5 separate regions of the Homo sapiens genome follow, and regions 1, 2, 3 and 4 are each reported to be linked to region 5. Evidence: microRNA targets listed by miRTarBase, many of them from high-throughput screens and not tested one by one. Region 5 holds a microRNA gene; each other region holds the end of a gene's coding sequence.
What was found. The annotated mature microRNA hsa-miR-4289 reads GCAUUGUGCAGGGCUAUCA and lies in region 5 at 2,782-2,800, shown strand. An mRNA with a match to its seed (bases 2 to 7 or 8) in the 3' UTR can be bound and repressed. Matches are read on the target gene's strand: a 7mer-m8 pairs with bases 2 to 8, a 7mer-A1 pairs with bases 2 to 7 and ends in A, and an 8mer does both.

Region 1 (5,109 bases), not on the chromosome of region 5:
TTAGGAAAAAATATTAGCGTCAGCACACAACTCACTACAAATCAGACAAATCCTAGTGGTCAGATATCTTATGAATGTGGACAATGTGGCAGATATTTCATTCAAATGGCAGACTTCCACCGACATGAGAAATGTCACACTGGTGAAAAGTCTTTTGAATGCAAAGAATGTGGAAAATACTTCAGATATAACTCATTACTTATTCGGCATCAGATAATTCACACTGGAAAGAAACCATTTAAATGTAAAGAATGTGGAAAAGGTTTAAGTTCAGACACAGCCTTGATTCAGCATCAGAGAATCCACACTGGAGAAAAGCCCTATGAATGTAAGGAGTGCGGCAAGGCCTTCAGTAGCAGCTCTGTCTTCCTCCAGCACCAGAGGTTCCACACTGGGGAGAAGCTCTATGAATGTAACGAATGTTGGAAAACTTTCAGTTGCAGCTCAAGTTTCACTGTCCATCAGCGAATGCACACTGGGGAGAAACCTTATGAATGTAAAGAGTGTGGAAAACGATTAAGCTCCAACACAGCCTTGACTCAGCATCAGCGAATTCACACTGGGGAGAAGCCCTTTGAATGTAAGGAGTGTGGGAAGGCATTCAATCAGAAAATAACCCTGATTCAGCACCAGCGAGTTCACACTGGCGAGAAACCTTATGAGTGTAAAGTGTGTGGTAAAACCTTCAGCTGGTGTGGAAGATTCATTCTGCATCAGAAACTACACACTCAGAAGACACCTGTCCAAGCATAGGGCTATCCATAGTTAGGCCCACTGTGCCTCTCCTTTTTTCTCTTTATTTTCATGCTTTTTATCAGTGTCCTCGCTGTCCTTCCTGGTTAGACACTTGGCTTTCATCATGAACTCTTCTTTAAGTTTTTTGAACCTGTTTCCCCAACATGAAGTCTCTTTATGGTTAGAGAAGACCAAAAAACAAACAAACAAACTTAGAAACATAAAAGGAAATGTAAGTTTCCAGATTTAAAGGACATGCTGGGTGCCCAGCAGGATGGATTCAAGGGAAACCTACATTAAGGAAAATTGCTGTGAATTATGAAAACACCAAGTTTGAATAAGAGGATCATGGAGAAAAAATGAGACCCTAAAAAGTTTCTAGAGAGAGAAAACAAAAGATCAGAAATGAAAGCGGGGCCAGGCGCGGTGGCTCGTGCCTGTAATCCCAGCACTTTGGGAGGCTGAGGCGGGTGGATCATGAGGTCAGGAGTTCGAGACCAGCCCGCCCAATATGGTGAAACCCCGTCTCTCCTGAAAAAAAAAAACACAAAAATTAGCCAGGCATGGTGGCGCATGCCTGTAATCCCAGCTACTAGAGAGGCTGAGGCAGGAGAATCACTTGAATCCCTGAGGCAGAGGTTGCAGTGAGCTGAGATCGCACCACTGCACTCCAGCCTGGGCGACAGAGTGAGACTTTGTCTCAAAAACAGTAAAAAATGAAAATGGCATTAGATTTTTCAAGAGCAACCTTCAAAGTCAGATGACAATGTGTATGCCTTCAGACTTCTCATGGAAAATGTTTTCCCCTGCAATTCTATACTCCAAAGTATAAGTATAGAATAAAGGCATTTCAGACCCTTTAAATCTGAAATCTTTATCTCCCATGCATCCTTTCTCATATGTGCAACACTACACAAGGAGTAAACCAGTAAATAAAAAGACAGATATATGGATTCCCTATTGCAGTCCGTACGTCAGAAGTCTCCTAAATTCAAAAACGGGCCCTGTCCATGTGGAGCCAAATGCATCTTGGAAGACATTCCTAGTAGGGTGCAAACTTCCAGAGACCTATCTCAGGTTCAGTGTCCACCCACCCTACTTATTCTTCAGTTTGTCTTCACTAGACAGTTGTACTCTGTGCCTTTGCAAAAGTCAGGATGTATATACTCTTTGAGTCAGGTGCAAGGCACCATTTGTCTTAAATTTATTCTCATTGCTGTTTCAAGTGACCTCAAAGCAGGCAGCATTTTCTTGCAATTCCATCTAGTTATTTTTTATGATCATGGAAGAACCTACCATTATTGCTGTTACCTGTGGAAATGAGGGAAGATGTAAATGTGTTAGGTTTTAGCATCCCCTCTGGCAGCCAGCTTGATTTTGCAGGAAGCAGAGAGTAGTGATTAATAATACAGAGCCAGGCAGACTTTGGTTTGAGTCCAGGTGTTTGTCCTTGGTTAAGTTACAAAAACTGCACTAGTTTCCTTATCTGTAAAATGAGGATGACAGTTAATCTACCTCATAGGTTTGTGTTGGGGATTAAATGCATTATTTGTAGAAGTGTTTCAAACAGTGACTACATATAATAAAAGTATTACCTATTATTGGCCGGGCACAGTGGCTCATGCCTGTAATCCCAGCACTTTGGGAGGCTGAGGTGGGCAGATCACAAGGTCAGGAGATCAAGACCATCCTGCTAACACACTGAAACCCTGTCTCTACTAAAAGTACAAAAAATTAGCTGGGCGTGGGGTGACATGTGCCTGTAGTCCCAGCTACTTGGGAGGCTGAGGCAGGAGCCCAGGGAGGCAGAGGTTGCAGTGAGCCAAGATCATGCCACTGCACTCCAGTCTGGGTGACAGATTGAGACTCCGTCTCAAAAAAAAAAAAAAAAAAATTTTTACCTATTATTATAATCCTATTGGTAAGTTTTGACTTATCAATATACTAGTGAAACAATTATCACAGTTCAAGATAATAATCAGCCACCACCCCAAAACTTTGCTTGTACCCCTCCATAATCCCTTCCTCTTGGCCCTTCACAGGCAACCACTGGTTTGCTTTCTGTCACTTGGATTAATTTTCCTTTATTTTTTGGTCTGGTGTCTTTCACTCAGCATAATTACTTTGAGATTCACCCATGTTGTTGCATATATATCAATAGTTCATTCCTTTTTATTGCTGAGTAGTATTCCACTGTATGGATATGCCATAATTTGTTTATTCATTGACCTGTTGATGGCCATTTGGGTTGTTTTCAGTTTTTGGCTATTACAAATAAAGCTGCTATGGACATTTGTGTCCACATCTTTGTAAGAATATATGCTTTCATTTATCTTGATACAGGAGTGGAATGGCTAGGTCATTAGGTAGATTGGTATAGATTAAACGTTTTAAATTTTTATTATGTTTTTATTTTTTAGAGGTTGGTGGGGGGCAGTTCTTGCTTTGTTGTTCAGGCTGGACTCAAACTCCTGGGCTCAGGGTATCCTCCTGCCTCAGTCCCCCTGTCCTACTCTTAGTAGCTGGGACTACAGGTGTGCACCACCATACCCTATTTAACATTTTGAGAATCTTCAAAACTGTTTTACGAAAGAGGTTGTGCCATTGTACATTTCCACTTGCATTGTATGACAGTTGTACTTCCAATACATCTATGCCTACACTTGATGTCAGTTTTTAAAATTTTAGCTATTCTAATTGTTTAATGCTATCCCATTGTGGTTTTAATTTGCATTTCTCTAATGACTATTGTGCTTATTTGTGTTCCATATAACTTATTTGATGAAGTGTCTGCTCATATTTTTTGCCCATGTTTTTATTGTGTTGTTTTTGTTTTATTAATCTTTGAGAGGTCATTATTTATTGTGGATACAAGTCTTTTTCAGATATGTGATTTTTAAATATTTTCTTCTAGCCTGTGGTTTGCCTTTTCATTCTCACAATGGTGTCTTTTTTTTTTTTTTTTTTTTTTGAGATGGGGTCTCACTCTGTTACCCAGGCTGGAGTGCAGTACCACCATCTTGGCTTACTGCAACCTTTGCCTCCCAGGTTCAAGTGATCCTCCCACCTCATCCTCCCGAGTAGCTGGGATTACAGGTGCACATCATGACAGTGTCTTTTAAAGAGCAGAAGACATTAATATGCATGAAATCCAATTTATCAGTTTTTTATTTTTAAATAGAGATGAGGTCTCACTATGTTGCACAGGCTGGTCTTGAACTCCTGGGCTCAAGCGAGCCTCTTGCCTTGACCTCCCAAAGTGCTGGAATTATAGGCATGAGCCACTGTGTCTAGCCTTTTTTTTTAATGGATCATGGTTTCAGTGTCAAATCTAAGACATCTTTGCTGTACCCACATTTGCAAAGATTTTTTTCCTAAAGTTTTCCCTTTAGAAGTTTTATAGTTTTTGTGTTTTTTTTTTTTTTTTTTTTTTGACAGAGTCTCACTCTGTTGCCCAGGCTTGAGTGCAGTGGCAGGATCTCAATGATTGCAGCTTCGGAGGTTGCTCACTGCAACCTCCACCTCCTAAGTTCAAGCGATACTCCAGCCTCAGCCTCCTGAGTAGCTGGGATTACAGGCAGGTGCCACCATGCCCAGCTAATTTTTGTATTTTTAGTAGAGATGGGGTTTTGCCATGTTGGCCAGGCTGGTCTCGAAATCCTGACCTTAAGTGATCTGCCCACCTCGGCCTCCCAAAGTGCTGGGATTACAGGTGTGAGCCATCGCACCTGGCCAGAAGTTTTATAGTTTTAGGTTTTACATTTAATTCTATCATCTATTGAGTTAATTTTTGTCTGAGGCATGGATCCAAGTTTTTTTCTTTTTCTTCATATAAGTATCCTATTGTAGCACCATTTTTTTCTTTTTTAAGAGATGGGTCTCACTATGTTGCACAAGCTGAAGTGCAGTGCTATTCACAGGCATCATTACAGTGTACTGTACCCTTGAATTCCTGGTCTCAAGTGATCCTCCTGCCTCAGCCTCCTGAGTAGCTGGGACTACAAGTCTGTGCCACTATTGCCTGGCCTGTAACACCATTTTTTGAAAAAAGTTCCCCCACTGAATTGCCTTTGTACCATTGTTGTGAAGCAGAAGTCCATATATGTGTGGGTCTATTTCTAGATACTGTTCCATTGATCTGTTTGTCTGTCTTGATGCCATTAAGGCACTGCCTTTATTATTATAGTTATCTAATAAGTGTTGAAATCTAATAAGTGTTGAAGTCATATAGTGTTAGTTCTCTAACTTTGTTCTTTGTCGAGGTGTTTTGGCCATTAGAGGTCCTTTGCATTTCCATATGAATTTTAGAATCAGTTTTTCACTTTCTACAAAACACCTCCTGGGAGTTTGATTGGGATTGCATTGAATATAATG
Region 2 (5,109 bases), not on the chromosome of region 5:
TCAGCTACTTGGAAGGCTGAGGGGAAGCCTGGGAGGTCAAGGCTGCAGTGAGCCATGATTGTGCCACCGCAATCCAGCCTGAGTAACAATGAGACTCCTAAAAACAAAAAAAGAAAAGAAAAGAAAGCAATGACCTTTTTTTTTTTTTTTAATCATTAAGCACTGAACAAAGCCACTATGCTAAAACTTTCCTGTTTTACTAATAGGAACAACATGCCAGAATTTCACAAATTAAAAGCAAAGTTGATAAAGAAGAAAGGAACACGGGCATATGCCTGCCAGTGTAGCTGGAGAACTATTGAAGAAGTGACTGACCTTCAGACAGATCATCAGCTTCGCTGGGTTTGTGGTAAACATTAAGAATGCAGACTGCACATTCGGACAGATGCATCCATGAGAGTGGTCTCCATGAATCATCATCATGTTTAGACAATAGTCCCTAGCAATACCATTCCCTGTGGGAAAAGGCAGTGAATTTTATTGATACAACTACATACATTTTTGAAGACCAAATGGACTAAGGAAGATCATGTATTATAACACTTTGGAATTATTCCTGATACATGGATGTTTCACTTAGTAACAGGCATCTACATTCTTTACTAATCTGTCTTCTGTTTAATAGAGGTTTGATTATGGAGTTCCATACAAATATCTAGTTTTTCATTAGCAACTGCAATATTGATTGCTAATACGTTTAGCAAATCATTCCCCAACTTGTAGCAGTTAAAGTGGATAAAGCCGGCCAGGGCAAAGAGATCATTTAGGGGTGTCTACAACACTTCTTCCAGTCAGATCTTTTGTTGCCAAAGATCATAATTTGGACATGGCAGAAACCAGGTGATCAGTGGCTGACTGAAGGGTGTTCAGAAGTAGTTACAGGTATTTTGCAAAAACACTGCCTCATAGCTGATCTTACCTCATCAACTCAAAGCAATGTTATGCACAATATTAAATACATGTTACCAGTTTTAGCTTATTTTTCCCTCTTTTGTTCATTTAACTATCAAAAGTTATTTTCTATTTTGATTACCCAATAATATATAAAAAGAGTTTGATGCACCCAAAATCACAAAAATCCTAATACATACAGGTTATTGTTGGATTTTCCAAGTACTTTCTATCCTTTAATGCCTAAAACTCCATCAAGGGAAGTAAACAGCAAGTAATATAATTTTTCAGGCAGCCTGTGGACTTCTCTGGTAGGATCAGGTTGACATATCGTTTATTAGGTGAGTAAGTGAAAAGACAAGTAAAGCATAACTGAACCAACAGGTAACCTGTTGGGCTCCTTCCTGACATCACTGAGATCTGAGGAGCCCTACAATAGCAGCACATTCAGGAAATCAGGTCCCTCAAAATTTCTAGCTCCCAACCCCATTGAGAGATTTTGGGAGCTTTCCAATCTGCCACAAACTCCCTGCTACATATGTACTATATAGTTCAAATGTGTGATACAGAGCACCCTGAAAGGGAATAATTGAAACAAAGTTATAATCTTCTTAGTCTTATGCTAAATTTATTCCAGCCACCCTACTGAAGGGAGGAAGATCTGATCATTAGAATCCTTTTCCTAGCCATGACACATTTACATACTTGTAAAATTTATTGTAGTAAGTCTAGCATTGCAACAGAATAGATCTTATAATGGCCAATCCTCACACTTTTGTATTAAGGATATTATGACAGACTAAGCATGGTAGCTCACGCCTGTAATCCCAGCACTTTGGGAGGCTGAGGCAGGCAGATCAGCTGAGGTCAGGAGTTCAAGACCAGCCTGGCCAACATGATAAAACACCATCTCTACTAAAAATACAAAAATTAGCTGGGCGCGGTGGTGCATGCCTGTAATCCCAACTACTCGGGAGGCCGAGGCAGGAAAATTTATTGAACCTGGGAGGCAGAGGTTGTAGTGAGCCAAGGTCGCGCCACTGCGCTCCAGCCTGGACAACACAGTGAGACTCTGTCTCAAAAAAAAAAAAAAGACATTATGACAGATTTTATCTTTTAATAAAAATGTATTATATCCCTAAAGTTATATCTATATGTAATTGAGTCAGAAACCTAGGGGGATGTCGATTGAAGTCGACTGCTGGAAAAAAATAGCAGAGCAACAAGATCCACACATTTAGAACCTCATAGAATTTGACACATTATTCATAATGGTGCAATTCTTTCTTTTTTATTCCAGTAAGCAAATTTACTAAATCACTAATTTGAAAAAAAAAATTTTTTTTTTGAGATGGAGTGTCACTCTGTTGCCGGGCTGGAGTGCAGTGGCACGATCTCTGCTCACTGCAACCTCCGCCTCGCAGCTTCAAGTGATTGTCCTGCCTCAGCCTCCCCAGTAGCTGGGATTACAGGCACACACCACCACGCCCAGCTAATTTTTGTATTTTTAATAGAGACAGGGTTTCACCATGTTGGCCAGAATGATGTCGATCTCCTGAACTCGTGATCCGCCCGCCTCAGCCTCCCAAAGTAGCCTACATTGCCTCTACTTTGAAGGGACAAAGTTGTCCTGGTTTTTTTTTCCCTTTTATTATTTCATTATAACTATCCTAAAACTTACATACATTGCCTATGTTTGGCATTCCATAACATAATAATTATAATAATCCCCCAATGTCAGAAATGTATGTGTGAGTTCCCATGTTTATTGGCAATTTATAAGCTTTTTAATATTGTACTATTTTAAACTAAAATGTAGAAAGAATATTATGTTTATATACAGTCAGATAAATTATTAACTGTTGTAATTTAAGCTGAAAATGAAACTATTTTAGTATCAGTATAGAAGAAAAGTATAGTTTCTAATCATCTATAATTTTAAAATGCAAAGCCTATAAAACTTTCAAGATGTTTTGCCTGTTTGTTTTTAAGATTTATAATAATTTTCTATCTTTAGCAAGTAGCTATTTTTAAGCCAGGTAACTTCTTTATTTGAACTGTATTATACTCTCAGACCCTCATCCTGCCTAGAAATGAATAAGTAATAAATAATTACTCTGTATTATTTACTTCTTTTATTTTATAGTAAAATATTCATTTGGATGGACATTAATTTGAAATCATTTTGATGTTTTTTTTTTTTGAGACAGAGTCTCTCTCTGTTGCCCAGACTAGAGTGCAGTGGTGCAATCATAGCTCACTGCTTCCTTGAACTCCTGAGCTAAAGCGATCCTCCCACCTCAGCCTCCCAAAGTGCTGGGATTACAGGTGTGAAGCACCATGCCCAGTCAAAAAAAATTTTTTTAATGTCAACAGAAAAGTTTCCAAGCATCCAGTTAAACAGATAATTTGTCTACACTGGGGAGGAGAAGTATGCCATAACTCTGATGTGTGTGTGTGTGTGTGTGTGTGTGTGTGTGTGTGTGTGTACATGCATGTGTAAAGAGAGTATGTGTGTGCATGCATGTGTAAAGTACCATGGGTATTCAAAGGAACAGGTCCAAGTTTAGGAAGAACAGGCCATGCTGACTTGGCGGTGTATACCTAGAACCTGTTCGTTGATGTCAGTAAACTTAGTACCTTTTTTTCTTAGGCCAGAGAATATGTCATCAGACTATGAATCTGAATTGCTTTCTCTCTTTTTCTTACTGATATTTAAGAATATGAAAGAAAAAGGTCTTTGTATCCAAAAGCATTGTGATGAAGCTTAGCCATGAATTTCAAATGCTGATATTTCTAATGTTTTAACAAAATCTCTATCAGCCAACCTAATGCTCCCAGTAATCAGCAATATCTCTTGTATAAAATAGTTCCTGAAAGAAAAAATTTAAAATACGCAATCTCTTTAGAGATTTCATATCTTATTGTATTTCATTGGGTTTGTGACATCATTTTGTGCCCTATTTTAAGAATGCACTAGAAAAACCAAAAAAGAAAAAAGATTGCATTAGATATGTATATATACAAGTACATGATAATTAAATTTGACTTTCCCCAAATGCCTTGAGATAAGGGATGACCAAATGAAGTTTAACAAAGTCAGAGTTCAGAGTCGTGTCCCTTAGAAAGTCACATGACATTTTGGGCTTCGTTCGCCTTAACTGTATGAATTATAATACCACTTTTGTAAGTTTGTTGTAAGGATTAAATCATATAACACATGAAAAGTGACTAGCATAGTGTTTGGTTCAGAATAGGTGCTTAATAAATGTTCTCATTCTTTTGTTATTATTATACTTTAAGTACTGGGATACATGTGCAGAACGTGCAGGTTACGTGCAGGTTTGTTAAATAATTATACACGTGCCAGGGTGGTTTGCTGCACCCATCAACCTGTCATCTATGTTAGGTATTTCTCCTAATGCTATCCCTCCCCTAGCCCCCTAGCCCCCAACCAGCCTCTGGTGTGTAATGTTCCCCTCCCTGTGTCCATGTGTTCTCATTGTTCAACTCCCACTTATGAGTGAGAACATGCAGTGTTTGGTTTTCTGTTCTTGTGTTAGTTTGCTGAGATGGTTTCCAGCTTCATCCATGTCCCTGCAAAGGACATGAACTCATCCTTTTTTATGGCTGCATAGTATTCCATGGTGTATATGTGCCACATTTTCTTTATCCAGTCTATCATTAATGGGCATTTGGGTTGGTTCCCAGTCTTTGTTATTGTGAATAGTACTGCAGTAAACATACGTGTGCATGTGTCTTTATAGTAGAATGATTTATAATCCTTTGGGTATATACCCAGTAATGGGATTGAACTTCTGGTTCTAGATCCTTGAGGAATCGCCACACTGTCTTCCACAATGGTTTGTTCTCATTCTTTTTCCTTTTAAAATAAATACTGTCTAAATTGAAGTAATAGTGCAGCATGATTCTTACAACAAGTAATTTGTAAAGATGTTTGTTTTATTTATTCCCTATGAGGAAAGCAGCAATGCGATCATTTATTTATAACTAGTGACTGTACACATGGCGACCTTTATTTTATATAAGTTGAAGCCACAACTTTTCTATTAAAAAAAAAAAAAAAGATGCTCCCCCTAGCCTGCCTCTTTCTGTGTGGCTTAAACCTAAGTGGGTCATCATGAAGGCATTCAGGCCTTTCACGATATCTTTTCAGTTTCATCTGCCTCTGCTTTCCTCCTTCTCCAACCAAACTGC
Region 3 (5,109 bases), not on the chromosome of region 5:
ATTCTTTTCTCACCCTGCACCTCCTTCCTGTACTTCCAAGTGGCACAAGCAAATACTACGAATTTTCTGGTTGCAGCTTTCTCTAAATGTTTGTGGAAAGAATAATATCTTGTCATTATGTTTGTTTAAGTGGCAAGACTGTGAATGTCTTTAGAATATAATAAAGCTCAAATTTTTTTAAAAAGTTGGAGAGTAGAGTCAGAGCATTGCTGGCTTACTCAGACTTAAGTTCTGCTTCTTTCTAAGAACGTGTGAAATGTTCACTCCTATAATGTGATTATTTTTCACTTCTTTTCTACTCCTCTCAGGCACCAAATGGTCTCCCAGCTGTGGGCAGTTTTGTGTCAGCATCCAGCATGGCTCCTTACCCTACCCCAGCCCAAGTGTCGCCTTACATGACCTACAGTGCTGCTCCTTCTGGTTATGTTGCTGGACATGGGTGGCAACATGCTGGGGGCACCTCATTGTCTCCCCACAACTGTGACATTCCGGCATCGCTGGCGTTCAAGGGAATGCAGGCAGCCAGAGAAGGTAGTCATTCTGTCACGGCTTCCGCGCTCTGATGGGAAATTCCGTCTCCAGCAGCTTCACCCGGGTCTCCCTGTCTCAGCACCTCCTCCCCCAATTCCCAGGTCTCACATCCCACCCCTCCTGCCCTCCAACCCTTCTGCCTTGAAAGCTGGCTGTACGGACTCACATCCTTTGTGCTAATGACACTTACATATTTCTTGCCATAACTTTTCTCTTGCAGAAAAACTGACATGACTTTAGGATTTAAAAACAAGAGCAACAATAAGCATTGAATGAGACATTTGTGTTGCCCACATACTGTCTTAACATAACAAAGAAACCTACACCCCTCAAAGGGTTTAAGGAACTTTACAAACTAGTCTTTGGTAAAACCACATGTGTATATTTATTCTAAATCAACCTGAACTTTTGAAATGTGCAATTGTTGAGATTTTGCAAAATCAATAAAGGAAAATACTTATAGAAAAAATTATGCTACACCCTCTAATCAAATATGGTAACCAAGTAAGCTTTAATTCATCATTAGGAAACAAATCAATAAGTGACTTGTTTGAGTGATCCTTTGTTTAAGACATGACCTATTTTGTTGAAAAATATATGTAGAACCCAAGCAATATCTGAATCTAGCTCTCCCTGGTGTTTTGACTTGGTTCCAAATACAATAATGTTTATATTTTCTATTAGTTTGTAAATACGGACTCTGGATGGTGCATTTGTGTCTTCATTCCATAAGATATTCCCCTCCCCTCAGCCCCACCCCCTCTCTATTTTTTTCTTTCTTTTTTGCAAAGGTGACTTTCTGGCAACGTCTTTGTCTCTGTTTGGTGGTGGGCTGCTCGGGCTCCTGGACCTGGACTTGCCCCCAAATTTTGTGTATGCAGTGAAGGCTTCAACATCTCATGAAGGACACTTTATTTCTACAGCAGAGGACACGAAAAACAGATAAAACAAGCCAGTCTCCCATTTTGTACCTAATCAAACAACACACATGCTAAGCATATAAAGACAAGAGGGTGGAAAATATCTGAACAAGAAGGCTCTAAAGGAAGTCACTTAGAAACTTAAGTTTAATGTGAAATGTTTTGCAAAGATGCTTAAAATGAACTTTGTGTTAAGAAAACCACTGTGAAACTAAATTGTCCTATTATTGTTGGCTTACCTGTGTGTTCAGCAATCTCAGCCCCAAATAATGTTGTAATTTAAAGAAAATGGAAAATTCTGCTCTAATGAATGTAACAATGGCTTGCTGTGAAGTTTACATTGTTGTACAGAAGCATGTTTCGCATGTAGGTAAACTGGTGGTGGTACTAGAAATACAATGTTATTTAATTTTAACAAATTCCCTTTATTCATTTCTGAAATTACAGGACACAGTTTAACTCATAAACCTTTCTAGACCAATTTATTTTTCACTTTAATGTTAATAACAGTTGTGGAGTATATGTGTGTGTGAGCATGTGAGTATGTGTTGTATTTTAAAACAATTGATTTTCTGGGGCAAAATTCTACAGTTTTTAATCCCTTCTGTTTAGGAAGTTCTTCCTGTTTGGCAATATAGGCTTAAAAATATGTTTTTAGGACATTGGTACAATTCAGCTGTTGGAAAATTAATATATTGAGGGTTTTTTGGTACTAATTCTGTGCAATAACTAAAAGAGCACCTCACTGGATATGGATGTTGAAGATGGATTCCCTAGGTGATTTTAATTTCTTCCGGTCTGTGCTGTGCACAGTCTACATGGCAATGCGGTTCCACCACATCGGTTTCGTGGCTTCGTTTAAAACTCAGATGGCTAGATTAGTTAGGTTTTCAAATCACTAGGATGTAAACAGTAAGCAGATTTCTGACACACAAATTATGTTAGAGTGACTGCTTTTTTCAGACAGCAGATATCTTATAGAGAGCTTTGAACTGCATTTATTTCTAAAGCAACCGAAATTCAGTGCTACAAATAGAGGATTATAACTTCAGGAGAAGAATAAGCAGAAGGAGCAGATGAACTCTCAGGGCCATAGTCTTCCTTTGATCTTGTAAAACTTCCATTGACATCTGGAGTTCCCAGTCTGGTGAGAAAATAGACTATAAACTGAATGGAACAAAGATCCAATCCAATATTTTGGTGGAGACTTCTTTAAAACCATACCATACAGGGACTCTCCTGTCATCTGAAAAACTGATGTAAGGTACAGAACTATTCTTTATCAAATGTTTTTAGGTGGCTGTTAGGGGGCTTTAAAAAATATTACTTGCTTGTGTGGAAATGCAAATAATGTTATTTTCTTTATCTAAATTAAGAAATCTCTTGTTATTGTGCTATTTATAATTTTTTTCTGGTTCTTGTATTTTAAAAAATCTAATATTAATGGTATTGAAGTTTCCTTTTCTCCCTCTAGGTCTTAACAGTGAATTCACATGGAGTAATTTTTAAAAGATATCAGATACAATTTGCTATTCAAAGAAAATTATGATTTAAAGCCACTTTTTAAAATACGAGAAGGAAAATAGGATGGATTAAAGGGTTAACTTTTAAAGATTATTATTGGTTAATGTTGACATATTTCCTCTATCTCATAGATGGTAAAAGTGTTGCTTTTAAACTGGCAAATGCACTCTTCAGAAATCCTTTTCTATCTGATCCACATGGAGAGGTTAAAGGTTCAATTTCATGACCTCTATGCAGGCAGCGCTCTCATTGGATGTAAGAATATTACCTGCAAGGATAGAATGCAGTTGTGCAACAGAGACACATTCTTATTTCTTTTTTTTCACAATTTTGTTTTGTTTTTAATGACCCTTTTATTGAATATTGGACTGAAATATAAATTTTAAAAAACACGTTGGAAAGGATGTACAACAGAAGGCTATGTATGTATATACAGTATGTCAAAAGCCTTTTATTTTTATACTTCAAATGCTCTAAATTAATAAAAAGTAATAATTACCATGTTATCTTTTACTTTTTATTTTCAAAATGCTTTAGTGAAATAGCCCCGTAGTAGAAATAGCCCACGGTAGTAACTTAGGACAGGTGTCATATGGACTTTCAGTTATTCTTGTTGACTTTACTGAATCAGCATCATCTCTGGATGCAGATATAAAATCAAGTTTGGTTACATCAAGACCAAGGAGATATTTTTGTTGATACATGTTAGTATAGTAATCCTTAGAAATGCTAAGTGTATTTCTTTTTCAGAACATTTCCCCTTCATCATACATATTTTAATACTGCAGACAGCTGACTTCCCACCTGAAGTTGTCGTTTAAAACTAATAACCTGAAAATGCAGTTCTGTTCTATACATTCTTCCTAAAAATGGCACAGGTAGGCATGCTGAATAAAGGTATTTGGATGCAAATACTGATGGCTGACAAATGGGTCCAAAGGTGTTTCCAATTTGTGATTTAACATGACAATATCTCATCAACAAAACTTATCTTCAAAGAGAACTATGTGGAGGAAAGTAAATTTTATTTCATGTTTCCTACTTGTGTTAGAAGAGATTTGGAATACCTTGATTTAAACATGCTTAAACAACAGTGTTTTAACATTCTGTTTTAAACAATGTTTTAAAATACCTATTTATTATCTTACAGCAATATGAGATATAAAGTAGATGTAGGAAAATAGAGCTGATATGTGCATAGTTACTAAAAAAAACCAACAGATTTACATTTTAACATAGTATTCATAAAATTAAACATTCTTAAAAGGTCATTTTAGTGCACTTTAAAAAATTTTTCTTGTGCTCTTTAAATATTATTTATGGAATAATTTAATTCATTATAAAAACTGCTTAAATTTTGGCTTAACTTTTTTTTAATCCAGTCTTTGAATAATTTGATTTATTTTCAATAGTTTAAGCATTTCTAGACCTCTTAGGAAAAATGCTGATCAATACAATGAATTTTCATTGTGAAGCATTGAAGAGGAACACAGGAGACAAAGTTTCTATTTATTTTATGAAATAAATATATGATTTCTATGCTATTTTTCTATATTCACTTTAAATACCTCATTGTTTCATATTATTTTTTTCTTCTCACAGTTTTATTTATACAGCCAAAACTATAATCTCAAGTTGCCTATAGACATTTTTTAAAGTATTAAAATAGATTTTGTTCTTGAACAGTTTTCTCCTTCATAATTATACACCTGGCCGATCGATAGTCTCTCTTCTTCATGGTGCTGCATAGCAAATATCCATTATCTCAAGGGGGAAAAACACTTCATAGGCAATCACCAGTTCTCTTGAAGCCATGAATAGGTGTATTCATAAACCAGCAGCATCACTGCACCACCTAGAAAAGAAAAGAGCTGTTTTTTATTGCAAATCCTCTGGAATAGCACTGGCTTTCCCACTGGGTTTCTGAATCCATGATGTCTCGCACAGCCTGTCAGGCAGAGGCTGTTCGGAATCAACAGTTCTGGAGCTTCAATACCAAGATATAAACTACTGTGGAAAATTCTCAGGATAAAATCAAGACCATCTTGAGTCTCCAAATACATTTTTCCCCATGAGTTTTTGCAACTTTCATCATTTGTCATCAGATTCTTTTTCAAGCACTTTCAATTTTTAA
Region 4 (5,109 bases), not on the chromosome of region 5:
ATACTTGAATATTGTCAAATGTTATTTTTGAAGTCATTTTGATATTTGGCAATTGAGGTTTTTTCAACTTTTTGCAATTTTAAAAGGGGTATTGATATCATATGAATTATCTTTTTTCTCTGGTTTATTTCCTTGGGCTGTATTCCTATGGATAGGACTACAAAGTCAGCAATTATATTTTCTAGCTTTTGTATGACAGGAATTTTCTAACCTTATTGTCTTCTAAATCCTAGGTTCAGGAGCTCCATGAGGAGGAGGCACAGTGGGTGAACTATGATGAGGATGAGTTGTGTGTGAAAATGCAGCTAGCCGACGGGATCTTTGAGACCCTGATCAAAGATACTATTGATGTTCTGAATCAGATCAGTGAAAAGCAGGGGAGAATGCTACTTGTGTGACATCTTGCAAATAAATCGAACGCTGAGTGCTAATGTGAGTCCTGGGCCTTTCTGCCTCCTGATGTACACCCATCGCCATCATAGCAAGAGTGCTTCTGGACCTTGTACTTATTCTTAAAGACTACCAGTATGGAGTTCATAGGACAATGTGGTACACCTGGTATTACAGCCTTTGCCTTTCGAGACTATCCACTGGATTAATGGGTTATTTTCAGTGGGCAGGGTTGCACAGTGTAATCCTACACCTTTTGCTAACACCCCTACTAGGTCCCAGAGGGCCAGAAACACCTGACTTACCTCTGAGTTTAGACTAGGGTATCACTTCTTTGAGTCTGAAGTCAAGTGAGAGAGGTATAGATAAATGCATCACATCACTTTTGAAATGTAATTCTGGTCTATACCATGGAAGTCATAAATGGACATTATAGTCTCTAAACAGTATTAAACCCTTAACCACTTCTAAAATAGGCAAGCTCAATAATGTCTGCCAACTTCACATTCTGGAGTTTATTTCATTTCTTTTTGAAGACCATTTTCTTCCATTATTGTAGTTGAGCAGCACCAAGTGGACTGTCAGGCTAACAGGAATAAGTGGTAGCCTTGCTTTCTGAGCACCATCTAAAGAATTTTAAACCTCTGCATTATGTTTAGTGTTCTCTGTGTGGGCATGAAAACAAAGAAATGCCCCTACTGAAGACTGGGCTCAAAGGACCAATGCAGGGCTGGTTCTTTTACCCCTTGGTTTACTCCTGCACTTGTCTTACTCATTCTGAATCTCTACCAGCTGCTCCCAGAATCACAGATACTCAGGACCATCTCAGGCATCCAGGCATGGCAAAGTGGAAATAATTCATTTTGGCCTGCAAACCTTCAACTCCCATCTTTCCCCAAGAAGTCAGAGATGCTGTTACTTGAATGATTTAGGAAATGAGTGTGTGCACCAAAGACAAAAAGATATTGTCTATTGTTTGTGTGCTTGTTTTGCGCTATGGAACATTTTTTAATTTATTTTAAGATAAATTATTAAGTTGAAAATGTGTGTCCCTATTCAGAAGTGAAAGATTCATCTTGTAATAGTTAAACCTCCATCTTGAAGCTTCTATGGTTCATAGTCTTTGCACAGGAACCTGTGGTTTTAACAAACCAATACACATATTGAAGAAGTCATTTTAATTCAGTGAAACGAAGATGGGCTTTTCCAGATCACCTGCAATAGCAGCAGTGGGATAAAATGATTTAAAAACACTGTACAATTTAACTCTGCCTCTCTTGCAGCATTGCTTCTCACAACTATTACCTGCATCTGAAAAAAAATCTATAGACTCCAGCTGCTACATTAGAGCATAAGAGATGCTCTCCTGGGACCTCAGTACCCTGCCTTCTTGACTGGTTTCCGTTCATCAGTCCTGTCCCTCTTCAAGTAATCTAGAAGAATGTGGATACTCTTAGGCGTGAATGTAAATGCCTTAATATTGAAGGTCCTGGTTAGAAGCATGATACAAGACATCTACTGGATTCATATTTACAAATATCCTGGAATGTTATAGCTTCAAAGTATATTAGAAAAACCCCAAAGATGGTATAATCTTTAAGTGTGCACGTTCGTTTATTTCTGCATCTTCCCTCCAAACTTGCCTTTGCATCTTAAATATTTCACTATGCACACTCCCATTCCTCTTGGGTTTCATCTTGTCGTTTAAGAAATGTACTGAAATAATCATTGGAATATTTGCATTTTGCACAATGACTGGTATGATAGCTCTTGACAAATAAGGAAAGCACTGAAATGTTGTGATTGGGTCTCGGGAAATGCTCAGATTGATGTCTTACCAGCATTTCTTCTGGGCTTGTGATGTTGAGCTGTAGTCTTGTAGCCATAATGAGCAAATTGACTAAGAGAAGCAAAGGTTTCTTGGGGTTATTAACCAGTAGTGTGGAAATACTAGTTTTATGTGGCCAAGGAAAAGCAAAGGCTTTTCTTTTCAGTTTGTGTTATTTGGAAGACAGAAAAACATCTTGTCTACATCCTTTGGCTGTTTGTAGGATCACGTTGTCCTTACGATACTGAAACTTTACAGCTGCTGTAAATTTTTTATAAATGAATTTCAAAATGTTATAATGGGACTGTAGGTTGTTTTTCTACATCTTCATTATTTGGACCTAAAACCAGTTTTTAATAAGAAAGTTTATCTTTACTCTTTCTGAAATTATGACTCCAGAAAAAGAAAAAAAAAATACAAGTCATGGAATCAGCAATCTGGTAAGAAATGCTGCCAAGAATGTGGCAGTAGCTGTCCTGACAGACTCCAACTGTCTTTACTATCTGAAGAATCCTAGGCTCCACATGAGAGGCAGAAATGGATCAGTCTTATTCTTTTCTAGAAATGGTTATCTGTAGTTTGGTAGCAAAAAAAAAGAAAAAAGAATCCATAATTAGCAGATTTCTTATTAACTATTTGGATCTAATTGAAATGGCTTTATTCTTAGGATTAAGAAAGATAGATGTGGATACCCAGCCACTCGTTCCATATTGGTATCTTTTTAAATCAGCTCTGCCTCTTAATCAAGAACCTAAATATTCCCTCTTTCTAATCTTTGTTCCTTCTCCCTACACCCTCATCCTCTTTCACTCTTCCTTCATAATTCCTCTAAGAAAAATATCTTTGCATCAGCAGTAATATCTTTTAGAATAGCACTATCAGAATTTAGCAGTAAACCAACATACAGGCTTCAGATTTACTTCTGAGTCCAAAACAATTTGTGCTATCCAGGGTAGTTAACTCTGGGTTAAACAAGTACAGGGTATAGATTCCCTCTTCAGGTCTACACAGGAATTTTTACCATAGGGAAAAGTGGGGAGAGCTCAAACGTAGTTAATAAGGAAGGTAATTTGTTTTTCTTTTACCTAAAAGAAAAGAAAATTCCTTCTGTGACTACAGGTCTCTGAGAAATTATCTTTCAAAAGAGATTTCATTGCTCATAAGAGTGTTGTGGCCTATTGATAAAAACAATTTTGTTCAGTTTCTTGTCTTGAAAAAAAAGTGGCCTTAGCTTTTTGCAATACTTGAATAAAGTGTGTACTCGCAAAAGAATTTCTGTAGCACAGCATTAGAGACTCATAACTTTTCTGCAAGAAATACAAACTTACATCTTCCTTTTACTACCTTAAGAATACTAGTGAATAAAACATTAATTCAAAGAGCAAATTATAGAAACTACAATGACATTTAATGCAAATTGTAGGAATTTACATGTTTACAAATCATCTTCAACTGGTTGTGCAGCAATTCAATAAAATATCTTTGTATTATAAAAATGTGAAGAAAAAATGTAAACTGATGTAAAGGAGGTACTGTCATTTTAATTAACCTATGTTTAATAGCTTTTCCTTCTGGACTTTGCAAAGCCTTCTTGGCAAACACATTGCAAAGCATTCTCTGGGAGGTTCAGCCTCCTTGTGTGTACTGTACTGTGCAGACATGAAAAAATAAACCCGTTTACTGTGTGCGTGTAAATAGCCTGGTCATCAGGCCATTTTCAGCCAATAGTCACATCCAGTGCAATTTTGCACCGAACACTTAAGGGTGTGGTTTGTAAGTACGATCTGTAAAATAACTGGGATGAATTCCCATGTATACCTGTGTAAATAGATTTGTTAACTGAAATATACTTTAAGAAAGATAAAATCTGTAAATAAACTGATTTATAAATTAATTTCATGTCAGGTCTCCATTTTTTCCCTCCTGAGCCAACTTCAGAAAATTAGTCCCCATAAAATACATCTGATTGCTTATTTAGTCATAGGGTGCTGATGCTTGGACAGTACAATCAGGTAAGCTGTGGATAAGAGCTATTTACCTGCACATAAATGCCATCAGCACATACATTTGAGCAGCCTGGGCTTTGCTCCCACACTCATTGATTCAGCAGATAGCCACTGAGCAACTTTGTGTTCTGAGTACTGTGCTGAGTGCTGGAAACATAGCAAAAAAGACAGACATGGTCCCTGATCTCAAGAAACTTAATGTCTAATGAAAGCCACCAAAAGATATTTTGAAAACCTGTGTGACAAGTTCTAACAAGTGCTGCACAGGAAGCATACATAAGATTTGAGAATATCTTAATAAAAGGACCCAACAAGGGTAGAGTGAGTCAGGGAAGAGTTCTCTGATAAATTATAACTGTTTTATGAGCTTCTTCCTTCTAATTCATGGCAAATGCCATTTCTCCCAAATGACCTAAATTTTGATAACCCTTGCAAAATAACACATGGAAGAGTCACACTCAAGTGGACCACAAAGAAGAAGTGCAACCAGCTGATGCCCAGGTGTGGAGGCTGTAACTTATTTCTGGAAATATGAGCTTGGAGGAGAATGAAGCTGAAGTGATAGAAGAATAAAAACAATCCAAGGATGGAAGTGTACAGCACTCAAGATAATGAATTGTCTCTGGTCTGACAAATCGGAAGTGGTAACCACCATCATCTTACCTGAATTCCTCTAGTTTCCCCCAGATGGCCATCCCTGCTATATCTTTAATCCCTACCACAACCATGAACATTTCGGAAATTCTCAGAAAAAGATTGGCCCCAAATTACAGTAGGTCCTAAGAAATTCTTCCTCTCATAAAACAGATAGTTGAGACTGGGCATGGTGGCTCACACCTGTAATCCCAGCACTTTGGGATGCCAAGGCAGGAAGATTCCTTGAGC
Region 5 (5,109 bases):
TCTCACCTGGACGGTCCAGCCTCCCTCTTTGCCTTCAGCTTCCTCTGGCCACAGGAAGGGCTCAGTGTCAAGGGCAACTTCTTCCTGCTTCGATTCTCAGGAACAGCCATCTGGTATTTGTCCTTCTTGTCTGGCGTCTTTCACTTAGCACACTGTCCTCTGAATTCACCCCTGTTGTCACAAACGGCAGGATGTCCTTCTTTTTTAAGGCTGAATACTACTCCATAGTACAGACATATGCACCAGACTCTAATGAAGTTGACCTCTTAGAAGCAGAAAGTAGAAGGGCAGTTACCAGGGGCTGGGGAGTAGGAAAAAACTGTGTGGATTTTGGTCAAAGGGTACAAATTTCCAGTGATAAGATACTTAAGTTCTGAGGATCCATGAACTGCATGGTAACTATAGTTAATAATACTGTACTGTATGTTGAAAATGTGCTAAGAGAGTAGAACTGAAGTGTCCTCACACACACAAAAATAATGGTAACCATGTGAGGCAGTGGAAGTGCTGATTAGCTTCATCTTGGCCGTCACTTCATGATATGCACATGCATCAAATCATCACATTGTACAATTAACTGTATACAAGCTTTATTTGTCAATTACATCTCAATAAAGCCAGGGGGTGGAGTCGGGAGGGAGGAACTTCTGTCTTGCTCTAGGTTTATGCAGTATCTTGTAAAGACAGCATGAGTCATCATCACTATCTGGCCCAGCCAAGTACTCTGGGGCCCTTTGTGCTGCAAATCGGTTCACACACACCAACCAGTGTCTTCTCATGATGCACAGCTGGAAGTAATTTCTTTTTAAGCTTTAAAAAAATTCAAGACACAGCTTATCCTTGGTGTCCACCCGCAGGTAGTCAGGCCCTGAGAACATGTCACCTGTGGGCAAACGCTAACTTTCCCAAGACCAGGATTAAGTGTTGAGTGGGAGGTGAGGCCTTTGTCCTGCCCCTCTCTCCCTGTGTGGACCGACTGACCAACCCGCCAAAACACTTTGAGAGCCACTAGACATAGTAGCTTACTTCTTCTCATGCAGATATTCCTTGGAGGAGCCTGGTGTATTTATTTTAAGAGTTGCTTTCAGAAACAGAGGACCTCTCTTCTGTTTCACAAAATACATGTCACAGAGAAGAACAAACCCACCCATGGCCAGCCTCTGGCTGTGTAATTGCTACTCTGCACAATAGGAAATGAGTGGCCACGGCACAGGTAGCCCATTTGGGAGTCGCCTAGAGCCCTGTCCCTACAAAGAAATTATAACGTAGCAAAAAACCAGAGGCTCCCTTCCTTGAATATCCAGGCTTAGGCCTAGAGCACGGAAACAAGACCAGTGTAATTACCTCGCATGCATAATCACTGCTGAGACCTGAGAACAGAGGCCGGGCCCTGCCTGGCCTTCGGCTGTCTGGCCATAAGCAAGCAGCCACTGAAACCAGGCAGCTGGGGTGCAGGGTGTTTGTGTGTGTGAAATGGCTCTGCTGCCCCGAAGCAAGGAGCAGGGAGATGGCTTTTCCCTGTGTGGCTTACCTGGGTCAGAATCAACAAGCAGGAGCATAAAACAGAGATCAGACCCCAGGAGGAAATGACAGCCAGGCCCACTTTGTGTGCACGAGTGAGGGTAGGCATGGGGAAGATTCCTGTTTGCTTGTCCCTTTTAAAAAAGCAAAACCGGCACAAGACTGTGGTCAGGAGCTCAGTATACAGGAAGGGGCCGAAGTCTGACAGCCTTCCTCAGAGCCCCGGGTGGCCTGGGGAGGAAGGCATGCTGCCCTGAGACTGCTGTGCAGGGATCCCTGGAATTCTCCTCCAGCATTAGCTGTGGTAGAAGGGACTTTTCTATTTTGTGATTCAATCTTTTAGTTAGATTGCTTGGGGGACTTGATACTAGGAAAATTTTAATGGTTTTACCTAAACAAGGGATAACCTTGTTTTGGAAGCTTATGATATGGAGGAAAGAGTTAACTGTAAAATCGGCAGGCCTGGGGAAAACAAAACCAACCAAGCAGTAGCCAGGGTGGGTGCAGGGCTGTAGCCAGAGCTCCGGGCTGCCCCACGGCACTCCCACTGCGTCAGGGAAGCCTTTTCTGGCCTCCTAGTTAGGAGGCATCTCCTATTACACACTCTTGGAGCATTTTGTAATTCTTCTGAGAGTTTATTACCCTAGCCAATGAATAATTGTGGAATTACTCAATGTTGTCTCCCCCTCTGGAACATGATACAAATGTCAGCTCCATGCCTGACTTGTTTGTTGCGGGATTCCCTGCGCCTAGACTAGTGCTTTGCACATGCAAGGAGCTCATATTCATTGAATAACTGGATGGGAGGGTGGATGGGTGGGTGCATGGATAAGAATGAATGGTTGGATAGGTGGATGGACAGATTGAACAGACAGGCAGGTGGATGGATAGATGGATAGAAAGATGGATGAATATAGATGGAGATAGATGGGTAGATGGATGAATGGGCATGTGGGTAAATGATTGCAGAAATGCATAAATGAATGAGTAGATAGATGAATGGGTGGGTGAAGTGGATGGGTAGATGAATGGATGAGTGGATGGGTGGATGGGTGGATGGATGGATGGATGGAGCCCACAAGGTCATTAAAGCATTTTGTTCTCTAACTTCTGAACTGAACTCCACTGGTTGTCTATAATAAGAGCTTTTACAGAGGGAGGTTGAACACCCAAGCATGTTGGACATGAGTGACAGCAGCTAGCATGGTATCTCTGCCCTAGATGCACTGATGGCAGCAGAGAGCTCTGTCCCTTGGGAGGGCATTGTGCAGGGCTATCAGGCAGTTTCCTGGGCCCTGTCTGCAGAGCCTAAACAGATCACATCTGGCCAGTCTCAACAGGGCCTCCTTACCCTATAAACCATGCATGTATTTATGTAACACTTCAGGCCTGATGGAGACCAGATGTGACCAAATGGTGCTTTATGCGGCCCAGGAATGCTGAAATACCAACATAGACATCTTTTATGGCTGCTCTTGCTCAGCAATCTCTCTTTAAATCTTAGGTTTGAGCCCTGATATACAACCATTAACTTCATTCTTCTGTGAAACAGAAACATCTGGCAACATCTATTTGATTTGTTATCCTTATAAGAGAAATACAACTATGTACAACTTCTATTCTCAGTTAGTGTAGTACAGTAAAAAGAATGTTGATGGGGAGGCAAGAAACCCAGACCCAGCTCCGCCCTGTACCTCCCTTACTGGCTGGCCTTGGGCCAGTTGGTTCTCACCAGGACTCAGTTTTCCATTGGTAATTTCAAGAGCTATCATTTATTAAACACTTCCTGAGTTCTAGGCACCCTACCTTGTGCTCAGTAAAAGCTACAGATCATTGCCACAACTACACCCCTATTCAAATGTACAAATGGATACATAGGCGTGAGTTTCCAATACCCATCATCCTTAGGAGGCAGATCCCAGTCTCAGTCTTCTGACTCCAAAACCACCTCTTCCCATTAAACCAAATGGCGGCTTTCACCTGCAAATAAGGAAGTGCAGCTGAATTGCTATTTTCTGAATTTGTGTTCCTTGGACACTTCTGTTGGGAGCGACTAATAAGTCTTTTGACCCCTCTCCAAAGAATGTGTGTTTAGGGACACTGAGGAAGTGTCCCTGAACACACATTTGGGATTTTGGATGCCCACAGAACATTACAGATGCTACAAGAATTTAAGCCTGTTTACTGTGGGGTTTCCTCATTGGGCCGCTAGAATGCCTTTGTCCCCTGAAACTCCTATTAATATCTTGAGGATCACTGATGCACATTCATACAAAAATGTTGATTGAATAGGTTTCATGCTCCTGGCAGGACAGGCTGTGTCTCTGCACTCAGGGAGCAGCCACCTTACTGACCCAGGTGCAGCTCAGCCCTGATTGCCCCTTCTATACTTTCCTGTTTATACAGAGCTCCTCCCTTCTCCCTCCATGGATGTATTTACAATGTAGAGATGCTGTTAATACTGTCGGCTGCTGCTACTTGAGAAAGCTCACCACACACTTTCCATGGGGATTGGGAATGGAGTTGAGCAGCCCCATTTAGTTTCACCAAGAGTAGTGGGACCTTGTGTACTTGTTTTAAAGTCTCACTCCCTGAAAGGGCCAGAACTGGATTCTGAGTGACATCTACCCAGTGCAATTTCTCCATTGAATAGAAAGAAATGTGCAAAACATTCTAATTATGCTTTTACAACAAGCTTTTTAAGAAAAATTACATTGCAAAGACCCAATCAGTGCAAAACTTGCCCTGAAGTTCCTTACAGTTTAAAATCACCATATCCCCTCTGCCCCTTCAGCTTCCTTCTGCAATTTAGGGTGCTCGTGACGCAGAAGGGTTAGGGGCTGCAGGAGGTCCACGTGCTTTGGCTCTGATCACAGACTGCAGCTGTAGCTTCATCTCTGTCTCTGCTCTACTTAAGGACAGCTGCCCTCAGAATGCCAGGCTGGAACATCTAAATTCTACTAAAATGATCACTCACTCAGAATCAACAGCTAGGAAGAGGCCACAGAGCAGAGCCCTTGTTAATTTGGAACATGCCAAACTGCAAAGATGGTCCATAATGCCCCAGCAGAGCGTGTGAGAGCCCAGCATCGGATTTGATGCCACCTGCCCAAGGCCCAGGCCAGTGCAGCAGCGCTTCCTCAGATGGGTGTGGGCTTCGGAGCCCTGAAACGCTTCCCAGCCCAGAAGCAATAAAGCCCCAGTATGTCCTTTTCTGCAGGCCAGCACCCTGTCCACAATCCCGAGGGATGAGGGATGGCCGCGTCATCTCCCACTAACAGCGAAGCCCAGGGTGTGCAGTTCCACCCCCTTCCTAAGATAGATGTGAATTTAGAAAACCAAGAAGAGAGCCTCTTGCCTCCATGCAGCACTTCTGAAAACAAGCAAAGCATTTCAGGGGAGGAGCAGCAGGCGGCTCTGGAGCTTTGCACAAACCAGCCGGGAAGGCTTTGACTGGAAGGCAAGCAGGGCTACCTTTTGCCATGATGATCTTTAGAGGCCCACGTTTCTTCTTATCCTTTCTTTAAAAACAAAAACAATACTATTATTTCTTAATTGTCTGAACTCAAACAAATTAGAGTCCAGGGC

Region 1: miRTarBase lists ZNF620 as a target of hsa-miR-4289. The part of its 3' UTR that is shown has no 7-base or 8-base seed match.
Region 2: miRTarBase lists CFAP418 as a target of hsa-miR-4289. The part of its 3' UTR that is shown has no 7-base or 8-base seed match.
Region 3: the mRNA of SLC25A21 is a reported target of hsa-miR-4289. Seed matches in the 3' UTR shown: 7mer-A1 at 4,545-4,551 and 8mer at 4,440-4,447.
Region 4: miRTarBase lists CEP350 as a target of hsa-miR-4289. Seed matches in the 3' UTR shown: 8mer at 2,138-2,145 and 7mer-A1 at 3,616-3,622.

Annotation. Positions count from the first base shown.
Region 1 is chr3:40,516,111-40,521,219 of GRCh38, forward strand. ZNF620 (zinc finger protein 620) reads left to right here. Exons shown (of 5, transcript NM_175888.4): 5 at 1-2,626. The coding sequence ends at 753. Among named protein-coding and RNA genes, the nearest start is that of ZNF621, 6.3 kb to the right of the region's middle.
Region 2 is chr8:95,242,868-95,247,976 of GRCh38, reverse strand. It overlaps CFAP418 (cilia and flagella associated protein 418), which reads left to right. Exons shown (of 6, transcript NM_177965.4): 6 at 207-3,064. The coding sequence ends at 360. Among named protein-coding and RNA genes, the nearest start is that of CFAP418-AS1, 23 kb to the left of the region's middle.
Region 3 is chr14:36,675,890-36,680,998 of GRCh38, forward strand. SLC25A21 (solute carrier family 25 member 21) reads right to left here. Exons shown (of 10, transcript NM_030631.4): 10 at 2,032-4,830. The coding sequence ends at 4,769. PAX9 (paired box 9) reads left to right here. Exons shown (of 4, transcript NM_001372076.1): 4 at 309-3,473. The coding sequence ends at 563. Among named protein-coding and RNA genes, the nearest start is that of PAX9, 17 kb to the left of the region's middle.
Region 4 is chr1:180,110,764-180,115,872 of GRCh38, forward strand. It overlaps CEP350 (centrosomal protein 350), which reads left to right. Exons shown (of 38, transcript NM_014810.5): 38 at 234-4,112. The coding sequence ends at 398. Among named protein-coding and RNA genes, the nearest start is that of QSOX1, 42 kb to the right of the region's middle.
Region 5 is chr9:88,743,568-88,748,676 of GRCh38, reverse strand. MIR4289 (microRNA 4289) reads left to right here and starts at 2,772; the gene lies at 2,772-2,841. RefSeq lists a silencer at 669-963 and an enhancer at 860-1,548.